Regions from separate parts of the Homo sapiens genome. Here region 1 is linked to region 2. A link means that fine-mapping ties the variant in region 2 to the plasma level of a protein whose gene starts in the linked region. Region 2 holds a variant in brackets. A gene starts in the other region. All regions are shown on their forward strands. Region 1 holds the start of NPC2 (NPC intracellular cholesterol transporter 2). Region 2 overlaps IGF2R (insulin like growth factor 2 receptor).

The links. PIP is the posterior inclusion probability: the model's chance that the variant is causal. Protein levels are from antibody-based Olink assays in UK Biobank. Linkage for the fine-mapping came from a reference panel and not from the study's own genotypes, which makes the PIPs less certain.
Region 1: it holds the start of NPC2, and the variant in region 2 is fine-mapped to the plasma level of the NPC2 protein (UK Biobank, PIP 0.96).

Annotation. Positions count from the first base shown.
Region 1 is chr14:74,489,399-74,494,825 of GRCh38, forward strand. It overlaps NPC2 (NPC intracellular cholesterol transporter 2), which reads right to left and starts at 3,907. Exons shown (of 5, transcript NM_006432.5): 1 at 3,795-3,907. The coding sequence starts at 3,876. It overlaps ISCA2 (iron-sulfur cluster assembly 2), which reads left to right and starts at 4,367. Exons shown (of 4, transcript NM_194279.4): 1 at 4,367-4,447; 2 at 4,652-4,754; 3 at 4,877-4,992. The coding sequence starts at 4,377. RefSeq lists silencers at 3,660-3,719, 3,890-4,169 and an enhancer at 4,370-4,449.
Region 2 is chr6:159,971,840-159,976,839 of GRCh38, forward strand. The region is part of intron 1 of IGF2R (insulin like growth factor 2 receptor); the gene reads left to right. Among named protein-coding and RNA genes, the nearest start is that of IGF2R, 5.3 kb to the left of the region's middle. The variant ATCTTT/A (reference allele first, on the strand shown) is at 2,415.

The DNA.
Region 1 (5,427 bases), not on the chromosome of region 2:
TTAAAAAATTTAAGAAAAGAAATTGGATTCATCTGACTTGTCCAGGTTGTTTCTAAGTAGTTTCAAAAACTGATTTTAAGCACACATCTGCAATCTACAGATGTATACTCGATTTTGGGAACCTGCGTTCTTAAAATAAGTGTGTGTGTGTGTGTCTGTGTGTGTATGTATGTATTTTAATCTCAGTCTAACCAAGGACAAAAGTACTTGTATACAATAAATGCTTGACCAAAAAAGGTTTAAATAAAGCCTTTAAAAATCCCATTTCCTCCTGCCCCAGAGACTGGGCAGTTGAATGGGAGAGAATGCAGGTGAACTGCCTGATAACAGTGCCTGTAACAGGGTAAGTTAAGTTCTGCCATTCAGCCATCATTGCTGAGAGGCAGACTCTGGTGCCGGATGCCTGGGTTTGAAATCTCACTATCTCTGCTACTTACTGTATAGCCTCAAGGCAAGATACTTTACCTCTCTGGAGATAATGGTGTAGCTGAGCTAACACAAATACAGATCTTAGGTAAGTGTTTGGAACATAGTGATACATATATTTACTATTATTATCATATCTGGATTTAGTCCATGAGTTTAATCTAGAATAGCTGCTCCTGGGTAGGTTAGCAAGTTCCCTTCTGACACAAAAACTGGACCTCTCACCTCAAATATACTTTGTGGATAGAAATTATGTTTCTAGCCAATAGGATGGACTCTTTCTGTCTCAAAAGTGGAATGCATGAAGACAGAGGCAAACTGCAGGTTGAGAGTACATTATCTGCTATGCAGTCAGTCACCAGATTAGCTCAGTACTATAAAAGTATGATATGAACTCAGAAATCTAAGTAGATGTTCTTTGCTGCCTGTACCTACCCTTGGGTGGAACAGTCTCTTTAACTATCATCACACTGACCAACACTGCTCCAGCTAGGTCAGTAAATAGTACCTTGCAGTCCTTTATCCCTCAGCTTGCTTCTCCATCATTGCAAAGTTCTTAAACTGCACACACTCTTAAGCATCCAAAACAGTTTGAGAAACACTCTCTTCCACTCCAACCCATTTTTGGTGAATAGGGAAAAAAGAAATCCCGAACTTCAATCAACAATCTATTGAAAATCAGTGCTAATGTTAAGGCTTTCAATGTCCAGCTTCCACCTGCTTCTTTCAAGGCTGAGTCACATAATCTAGTAGGAAGTAAGTAAAGGGTAGTACTTATAGCTCTTTCATCCAGTTTTCTGATGACAAGAGGTTCTTAGACTTCCAGTGTCAATAGAACAAACTCCTCTGTTCTAACCAGCAAACATTACAAAATTAGTTTGCTTGGTCCACTTTCTCACTTGAGGAAATCCCACGCCAGGGAAGGTGGGTGTAGAGTGGAACACAAAAATCTTTGATGTGGGCACTGAAGTCTTTATATCATATTTCCCAATTCAAAAGTAAATTATAAATCTGTAACTGAAACCCTTCTTCCCTTTAAAAGCTTCTTCCCATAGGTGTACTCCTGCTTTTTCAAATAAGTAGAATAATTTCTGGATTTATTTCCCTTCTTTTTTTGGAAACCCAAAGTGGCTCACAAAGACCCACGGTTTCCTACCACTTACTGGGTGTGAGATCTTGGGCAAGTTACTCTATGTGCTTCGCTTTCCTCATCTGTAAGACAGCTTGTGAGGATGGAATGAGTTATTTTATTTTATTTTATTTTTTTGAGACGGAGTCTTGCTCTGTCGCCAGGCTGGAGTGCAGTGGCGTGATCTTGGCTCACTGTAACCTCCACCTCCCGGGTTCAAGCGATTCTCCTGCCTCAGCCTCCCGAGTAGCTGGGACTACAGGTGCACACTACCATGCCCAGCTAATTTTTGTATTTTTAGTAGAGATGGGGTTTCACCATGTTGGCCAGGATGGTCTCAATCTCTTGACCTCGTGATCTGCCCGTCTTGGCCTCCCAAAGTGCTGGGATTACAGGTGTGAGCCACTGTGCCTGGCCGGAATGAGTTATTAAAATTAATAGTGTCTTCATCCAAACGCTGGCTACTAAGTTTAATGGAGGGAAAGGCAGTAATTTGAAGCGATAATAGCTTTCAAGTGCCAGTCTCCTAAATCAATGGAATAGCATTTAAGTGTTAATCGGCCAGCACTCCATTCCTTAATCAATCCTGTCCCCTAATCCCCAACTTTGCTTTTGTCTCAACATGAATTTTTATGACATAGGGGAAAAAGATTTCCATCTATGTTTTCAACACATTTCATTGAGCAGTTACTATTACCTGGGCACTGGATATAAAGCAGCAAACTTATGAAACCGCCTTTGCAAAAATCCTGAGGAAATTAAGACAGTGAAAGAGATCAGGACTCACCTACCCATCTTCCTTCTAACCTCTAAACTGTCTTTGTTCATTCCTGGGTGTAGGCTGAACTAGTCTTGGAGAGGAATTTATAGTTTAAACTCTGAAACGAAATGGATAATAGCCCTTTCCTGAAAAACCCCTTCTTGCCTGGGGACCGGTCTGCCTTTGTAGGACTAACAAATTAGCTACGAGTTTAGGGGCCACGCCGCCTCTGGCTGTAAGAGTCTGAACCTCCCCAAATTGCTCCTGGTAATGATATCACTATTGTAAAACCTAAGGTCAGTGCTTGAGATATTTTGCAGATCCTGCATTCCGATGCAGCAAATGACACCACCCAGAGGTCAGCAAGAAGAACTCACTTCGACTCTCCTATGATTTTATCTTCAACCTGACCAATCAGCACTCCCCACTTTCCAAGCCCATACCCGCCAAATTATCCTTAAAAACTCTGATCCCCGAATGCTCGGGGAGACTGATCTGAGTAACAATAAAACTCCGGCCTCCCCCACAGCCGGCTCTGCGTGAATTACTCTTTTCGCCACTGCAAATCCCATCTTGATAAATCCGCTCTGTCTAGGCAATGCGCAAGGTGAACCCCTTGGGCGGTTACACTTACTCTGGCTCCCCATTCTGCTGCGTGACTTTAGGTAGGCTACCCAACATCCCTGGAATTCAATGATTGATTATACGATCTCCGTGCTTCCTTTCCACTCATAGATCTTACAAAGTCAGTTTCATGCCTCTTTCATTGACAGTTCTATCTCTCTATCTCCACCTCTGAACAACATTGCTCGAGTTTCTGTTCCGACAATTCTATAGACTCGACTCAATGAAGGCACTCAGAATTTCTACCACCTGTTGTATTTTCCAACAAAGATTCCAACCACAGCGGCGAGAGGGAGTTATGTATCACAAGCTGTGATTAGAGACACAATGAGATTTATACAAGGAAAAACTGATTAAGAATCACAAGATTCCAAAGCCCAAAGGAAGTCCTATTTGTAACAATAAATGATGAAAAAGGGGAATTGACTTTTGACTTGTCAGCAAAAACGAAATTAAAAGAAAAGCAAAAGGAGTTGGAAGGGGGAGGCGGGATTCCAAGATACAAAGCATAAATAAAAAGAAGTTCTGTGCTCCACCCCTCCACCAGAGCTGGATACAGCCCTTCTGTTGTCCGCCCTACAAACTTTAGGAAACTTCAGCAAAAGGCCCACCTCCTGGAGTTCCCAGGAACCCCAAAACACGCGTTCTAAGGAAAGAAACAAAGTTGTGCGCGGTCGGGTTTCATGGAGGCCGGCGCCTTCTCCCCCGACCCAGCCCATTCCAGTTAGGTAGGGTCCAAGGCTCAGCCTGGCCGCCCGAGGGATCCGCCCAGCCCAGCCCCAGGGGTCTCAGCGCGGGGGTCCGGCGGGGCCTTCCACAGAGGGCGCGGGAACCTTGGGCGGGCCTGGGGCTCACCGCAGTCCTTGAACTGCACCGGTTCGGCCTGGGCAGCGGTGCTGAGCGCCAGGAGCAGGAATGTAGCTGCCAGGAAACGCATCGCGGATAACGAAGTTCCAAGCTCGGGAAAGAAGCAGCGGCCGCCCGCGGTCACAAGACAAACCTGTCGGGGCGGGCCCGGGGAGGAGCCCAGTCAGGCGACCTGTCACCAGTAACCACAGCTGAGGCCCGCCCGCGCCCCGCCCCCGGCTCCGGAAAGCCAGCTCCAGCCCTCTCAGGCCCAGAAGCCTGCAGTCTCCGCCCATGCCATCCCCTCAGAGGCCTGACCCGCCCGGACCCACCTCCGCCCCGCCCCGCCTCACTCCTCCCCGCCCCGTTCCTTCCCTTTAGAGCACCTCTCCGGCTTCCTGGGTGCGTCCCCGCCGCTGCCGTCTGGAGCATTCCTAGCCAATCAGACACCTTCTCCTCCCGCACTACCCAATAGGCATGTTGGGGGGGCGGGGCCTCCGTGAAGTCCCGGCCTCCTGTTCGTTCTCTCCGCCTCCCGAGGCCCCGGGTGAGAAACGGGGGAGACGCGAGGGGCGGAGCTTGTGGAGGAAGATGGCTGCCGCCTGGGGGTCGTCCCTAACGGCCGCGACGCAGAGAGCGGTCACTCCCTGGCCGAGGGGCAGGTACCAAGACTAGAAAGGCACCTGGAAAGGGTGTTTGGTTCTGCGCCTCTAGGACAAATGGGAAACTAAGGCCTGTGGGGGATGCGAGGGTTTGGTGGGAGGCCGTCCAGGTGGGGGTCGCCAGGTTTAGCGTGAGGCGCTCCAGGTCGAGGGTTGCAAGGTGCCCCTTCTGCTCCCGGGCTCACCCTCCTCCCTTGCGCGCAGGCTCCTCACGGCCTCCCTGGGACCCCAGGCGCGTCGGGAGGCGTCGTCCTCCAGCCCCGAGGCCGGCGAAGGGCAGATCCGCCTCACAGACAGTTGCGTCCAGGTAGGAGGCCGGACGCGGAGCGGCGGTACCCAGGCGATTGGCGGGAGCAGCGGGAACTGCTCTTCACTCAGCCCTTTAACTCCCGTTTCCCGCTATTCTTGATCCCCCTTCCTGCATTTCAGAGGCTTTTGGAAATCACCGAAGGGTCAGAATTCCTCAGGCTGCAAGTGGAGGGAGGTGGATGCTCCGGATTCCAATACAAATTTTCACTGGATACAGTTATCAACCCCGACGACAGGCAAGGAGGAAGGGGTGGGCCCCCAAAGGAGGTACAGGAGGGACAAAAGTGTCTCCAGTTTAAGGTGCACTTTTATTCCAAATTTAAAGGGTTTACCTGGGATGGTTAACACCGCCCGTCTCACAGTGAGGATGCAGTAAAGGTTTGTTGTTCTGAATCAAAGTAACTAAGTTATAGGAGCAAAATTGATCTGCCCAGGTCCATTGGGTAGTCGGTAGAAAGTCAGGCCGGACTAGATTCCAGGCTTAAGTCCCTACACGTTTCCCAGTATTTATTCCATTGAATCATTTTGCCTCAAAGAAAATCAGCACCTGTTAAAGGTAATGGGGAAGCTCCCTCTGTACTTTAGAAAACAGAGGATGTGCACCTCTGGGCTCAGGGGGTGTCTTTTTTGTGTTTGCGATACTCCTTAATGCCTTCCTCCTGTCTTTTCAG
Region 2 (5,000 bases):
AGAGATGACGTCTTGCTATGTTGCCCAGGCTGGCCTCAAGCTCCTATCCTCAAGTAATCTTCCTGCGTCAGCCTCCCAAAGTGTTGGGATTACAGGCATGAGGCACCATGCTGGGTTTATGTTCCTGTTTTAAACTGATACCTCTCCTTAAATACTTTTTGAAAACTTTTCTTGGGGCGGGGGAGGTTATCAGTCATCTGTACTTTTATGAGATAAAACTGGCTAAAATTTCCGTAAATGTAGCATGTAGTTGAGGAATAGGAATGTAAGTTGATTTTTTTTTTAATTTGATACAAAAAATTTTATCGTGTCACCAAGGTGTGACGTGTTAAGCTCCATTTTAATTTTGTTCCTGGGCATCAGTTTGCTGAAATGTAAATAACTCGGCCAGGTCTCCACTGTGAGCATGAAAAGTCGAGTCCTACAAATGTCCCCGTTTGTTTTTGCTGCTTGGTCACATGGAGGCAGTCCCAAATGTACAGAAGGATCACATTCCAAATGTTTGTAAATTGGTAATTTCATACGTGGAATGTGTTTTTCCATTGATAGTATTCTTGTTCATTGTATGGCCCCCAGAAAGTCATTATCCTTGCAAAGGTTTTGGAGCACCCAGACACCATATGGCTTTAACAGAATCCTAGCCGTAAATTCTCATTGTCTCTAAAAGATGGAGTTGGATTTCCAGGAAAACTACCTCTCCTCCCAAGCCCAGCTCTCTAGAACCTAGAGAGAATATTTTTCATCTGCAGTCGCTTAGACCCACAAGAGGGACATGAGGGCCTGCTTCAGGGGTGCCTGCGAGGCACCTTGTGGGGGCAAAGCTTCAAGGTGACCTTTGGCTCTGAGCACTCCTGGGATGGGGTGCGGTTCCTGGTGCAGTTAGTTATTGGGAGGAACGAAGGAGACAGCACCATTTCAGCAGCAGCTTTAACTGTGTCCGTGCACGTGGAGGGGCCTGCCCTCTGAGTTGTGCATTGAACAGCAGGCACGACAAAGGCTCATTTCCCAAAGTGTATCTGGCTTGAAGCAGCGCTTTAAATAAGTGCATGGTTTTTTTTGGAGAGACTCAGCAAAGCATTTTTCAAGTGTCAAGTGGATTACTTGCCAGGTGGTCCCAGTGCTGAGTTAGAAGTTAATGATTCTTATGCAGGTATTTCTTGGGAGGTGATATTGCTAGTACAAAGTTAGTAGAAAACTTGTTTCTGAGGCTAGTGTGATAGGCTGTGGGACTGGCCTGTAGAAAAGACCTGGGGCAGGAAGGAGTGTTGAAGGTCAGTGGAGGGCGGGAATAGTAGAGCAAGAAGAGAGGGCATTCAGGAGGAGAGGAGCAGAGGCCAGGCCATGCAAAACCAACAACAGTGTCTAAAGTGATCTCAGCTTGTCAGTGGCTTTACTTATTACCATATGCTTTAAACTTTGTAAAATGTCATATTATATATGTAATATGCAAGTTTCCACCCTTTAGTTAGGTGTTAACAAGATGCTTAATGGGTGAGGTCTTAGCAGTGTGCATTAATGATAAAATAATGCTTTGGGATGGTTAGATTTAAGGTAGTTAAGAGCTTCAAAATTTGTACAGGACAAGTTTTCCCCAAATTGTTTAGGTATAAATGCTAGAAAGTTTTTATTATATTGAGGACAAGAGAATAATGAAGCCAGCTGGGAGTTGAGGTTGGTTTAGTTACTGTCTCTAAGGAGATTTTTTTTTCCCTGTAATTTTTCCAAAGGAACAGTGCTTATATGCCTAATTTGGGCCACATGTTAAACCTGGATCACATCCATTTGTGTGTGTGCATTTCAACAGTAAGTGTATGTGGAAGCCTAAGGTTGTTAATTATGGTTACATTAGATCTCATGGATTAATTCTCAGAACAGCATCCTGACAGATTCCCAGGAAATGAATGCCTGCGTTGGGCCTCACGTCTTTTGTCAGCATTTCATAGAGAGAGGGATTTTTAAAAGATGGGGCTGAGAGAAATAATTGAGATGTTCCCTTCCCTATTTTGATCTTGGTATATAAACTATTGTATTGGGGAAAGAACTGAGCAGGCTCTAGAACTGAGCCTAGTGGCAGAGAGTAGCTTATCACTTTGCAGGTGCTGTTCTTTTTCTTCCTCCTTTTCTTCTTTGGATTGTCCTAGCCACAGAGAGCTCTTGCTAATGTTGTAACTGGTCATGAATGGTGTATGAGGAGGTGGGCGTAGCAGCTGTTTGACTTCATGGGACCCACCAGACTGTAATGCCGAATTACAATTTTGCATTTCCACCAGTGATGTATGAGAGTTCCAGTTCTATATCCTTGTCAACACCTGTCAGTGTTAGGTTTAGCCATTCAAGTGGAGTTGTAATGGTATCTCAGTGTGGTTTCAGCTTTCATCTCTCTGCTGACTCATGATGTTGAGCAAGAAAGGAAC[ATCTTT/A]TCTTGTATTTATTGGAATCCTGGATGATGTTCACCATTATCATGTGCTTACTGACTGGGTATTTTTTGTAGTGTCCTTTAAAAATCATATTTTGTCCCTTTTACCCCTTAAAAATTGTTTTTGGGTTCTTCTCCTTATTGAGCTTTAGGAGCTCCTCATGTCTTCTGGGTACAAGTTCTTTCTTAGATATGTGTGAGGTATGAGTGTTTTCTTTCAGTCTTTGCCTTGCCTTTAAATTTTCTCAGTGATATCCTTTGAAGAACAGATTTAAAAAAATTTGATGGACTATAACTTTTTATGGTTTGTGCTTTTGGTAGCTTGAGAAATCAACCTTAAAACTAGTGACATTTGACCTGGGTAATTTTTTGTTTGGAGGGCTATCCTGGGCATTGTAGGATGTCAGCCAGCATTCCTGGCCTCTACTCACTAGATGCTAAGACTATACTCTACCACTCCCCCTCCCCCAGTGGTAACAAATAAAAATGTCTCCAGGCATATCAAAGGCCCTGGAGGGGAGGGGGCAAAATCACATCCAATTGAGAACCACTGGCCTACCCCAAGGTCTCAAAGATTTTCTCCTGTCTCTGCCTCTAGAAGTTTTTTGGTTTTAACTTTGATTCCTTAACTCTAGGATCAATTTTTGTGGTTTAATTTTTATATATGATGTTTGAAGAAAACTCAAACCATATTTTTCCTTTGCTCTCATTCCATGAACAGTCATCAACACAGAAGACCTCCGTAATCAAATGTGTGGTCGTTTTTCCCCAGGCACCAAGCAGTGACCCCTGGCCAATTCAATTCCTGACCCTGTCTACCTGGAGATAGTGTCAGATGCCACAGGTTTGGGGCTCAGTTCCCGAGACCGCTCCCCACCCCACACCAGTCACAAGTCCGGGCCTCTGGAACTTCTGACCAACTGGCTTCAATTTGGGGTTCCCAGAGTGCCTCTTTGGGTCTGATTAATTTGCTAGAGTGACTTACAGAACTCAGGAAAACACTGATGATTAGCAGTTTATGAGGATATTACAAGGGATACGGATGAAGAGATGTTTAGGGCGAGGTATTGGGGAAGGGGTGCGGAGCCTCTGTGACCTCCCTGGCTCACTACCCTCCAGGAATTGCCGTGCATTCAACTATTTGGAAGCTCCCCCAACCCAGTTTTTATGGAAGCTTCAGGAGGTCAGCATTTCTTCTCCCGGGTATAGGGTGGGACCCTCACTGGGGAGGATCTTAAGACCCACAGTCCAAAAGCAGGGAAGATGAGAGTCCTACCTTGGGGCAGGTGGAAGGAGGGGCAGGTGGAGAGATTGTTTCCTGAGGCCTGACACACCCAACATTATAACAAAAGACCAATACTAGGACTGTGGAAGTTGGCAGCCAGAAACCAGATGGGAAAAAAAAACCCATACATGTATTATATATATTTATATATATATATATATAAAGTATATGTATTGTGTATATATTATATAAGCATATTTATTATATATATATTATAGTGTATATTATATATGTATTATATATAATATATAATATATAGTTATATATAATATATACACACGCACATATATAAATAACACCACAAAAAGGGTAAAAGTTTATTTATTTCCATGAATATATCTAGTTCTGTTTACTAATACTTTATGAAATATGCTTACAGCTCTGTTTTTAAGTGAGATTGGGCTACAGTTTTTTTGCTCTGCTGTTCTTGATGGATTTTGTTATTAATAATATGTTTGCTTTGTGGAAGGAGCTAGTTAGCTTTTAGTATTTTTGTATGTGGTGAAACAGTTTGTATATAAGATGGACATTTTCTGTTTCTTAAAGTTTGGTAGAATTCACCAGTAAAACTATCTGGCCCTGGCAGGCTCTTAGGTGGAATATCATCGGGGAGGACTTTTGATTATGGTTTTTTCTAGTTTTATTTTCAGTTTTATCTAGTTTATTTTTCTATTCAGATTTTCTACTTTTTCTTGGGCCAATTTTGGTAATCTCTATTTTCCTAGAAAATTGTCATTTTAATTGTGTATTCATATTTAATAAGTAGCATGCTACTCTCATATTTTTGATACTCTATAGCTCTAGGTAAATTTTTAAAATTCCTGATGTTTACTTGTGTACTTTTTTCTTAATTATATTTACTAAAGACTTATTTACCTTTTTAAAGTCTTTCCAAAAGAACTAGTGTTTTGTTTTTTCATCTTTTCACCTTTTATTTGCAATTTTATTAATTTATCCACTCAGTAACTTCTACATCATTTTTCTGTTTCTCGTTTGACTTGAATGCTTAGCTCTTTTATTTTAAATCATTTTGCATAATTAAGAAATATATTTAAAGCTTCATGTTTCTTTCTTCGGAGTACCATACCACTCATAGATTCTGATACTTTTTTTTTTCTCCATATTTCAATTTTGTGTATTCCCTTTTTGGATTCAAAAGTTCTATCTGTTTCAACTTCCTGGACCCACTAAATTTTTAGATTTTTATTTTTTTCAGGTCCATGGACTTTGGGGGTTTTAAATTTATTTTTTCCATTGTGCGGGTAAATGTGGTGGAACTTACTGACATTTCCCTTGTGG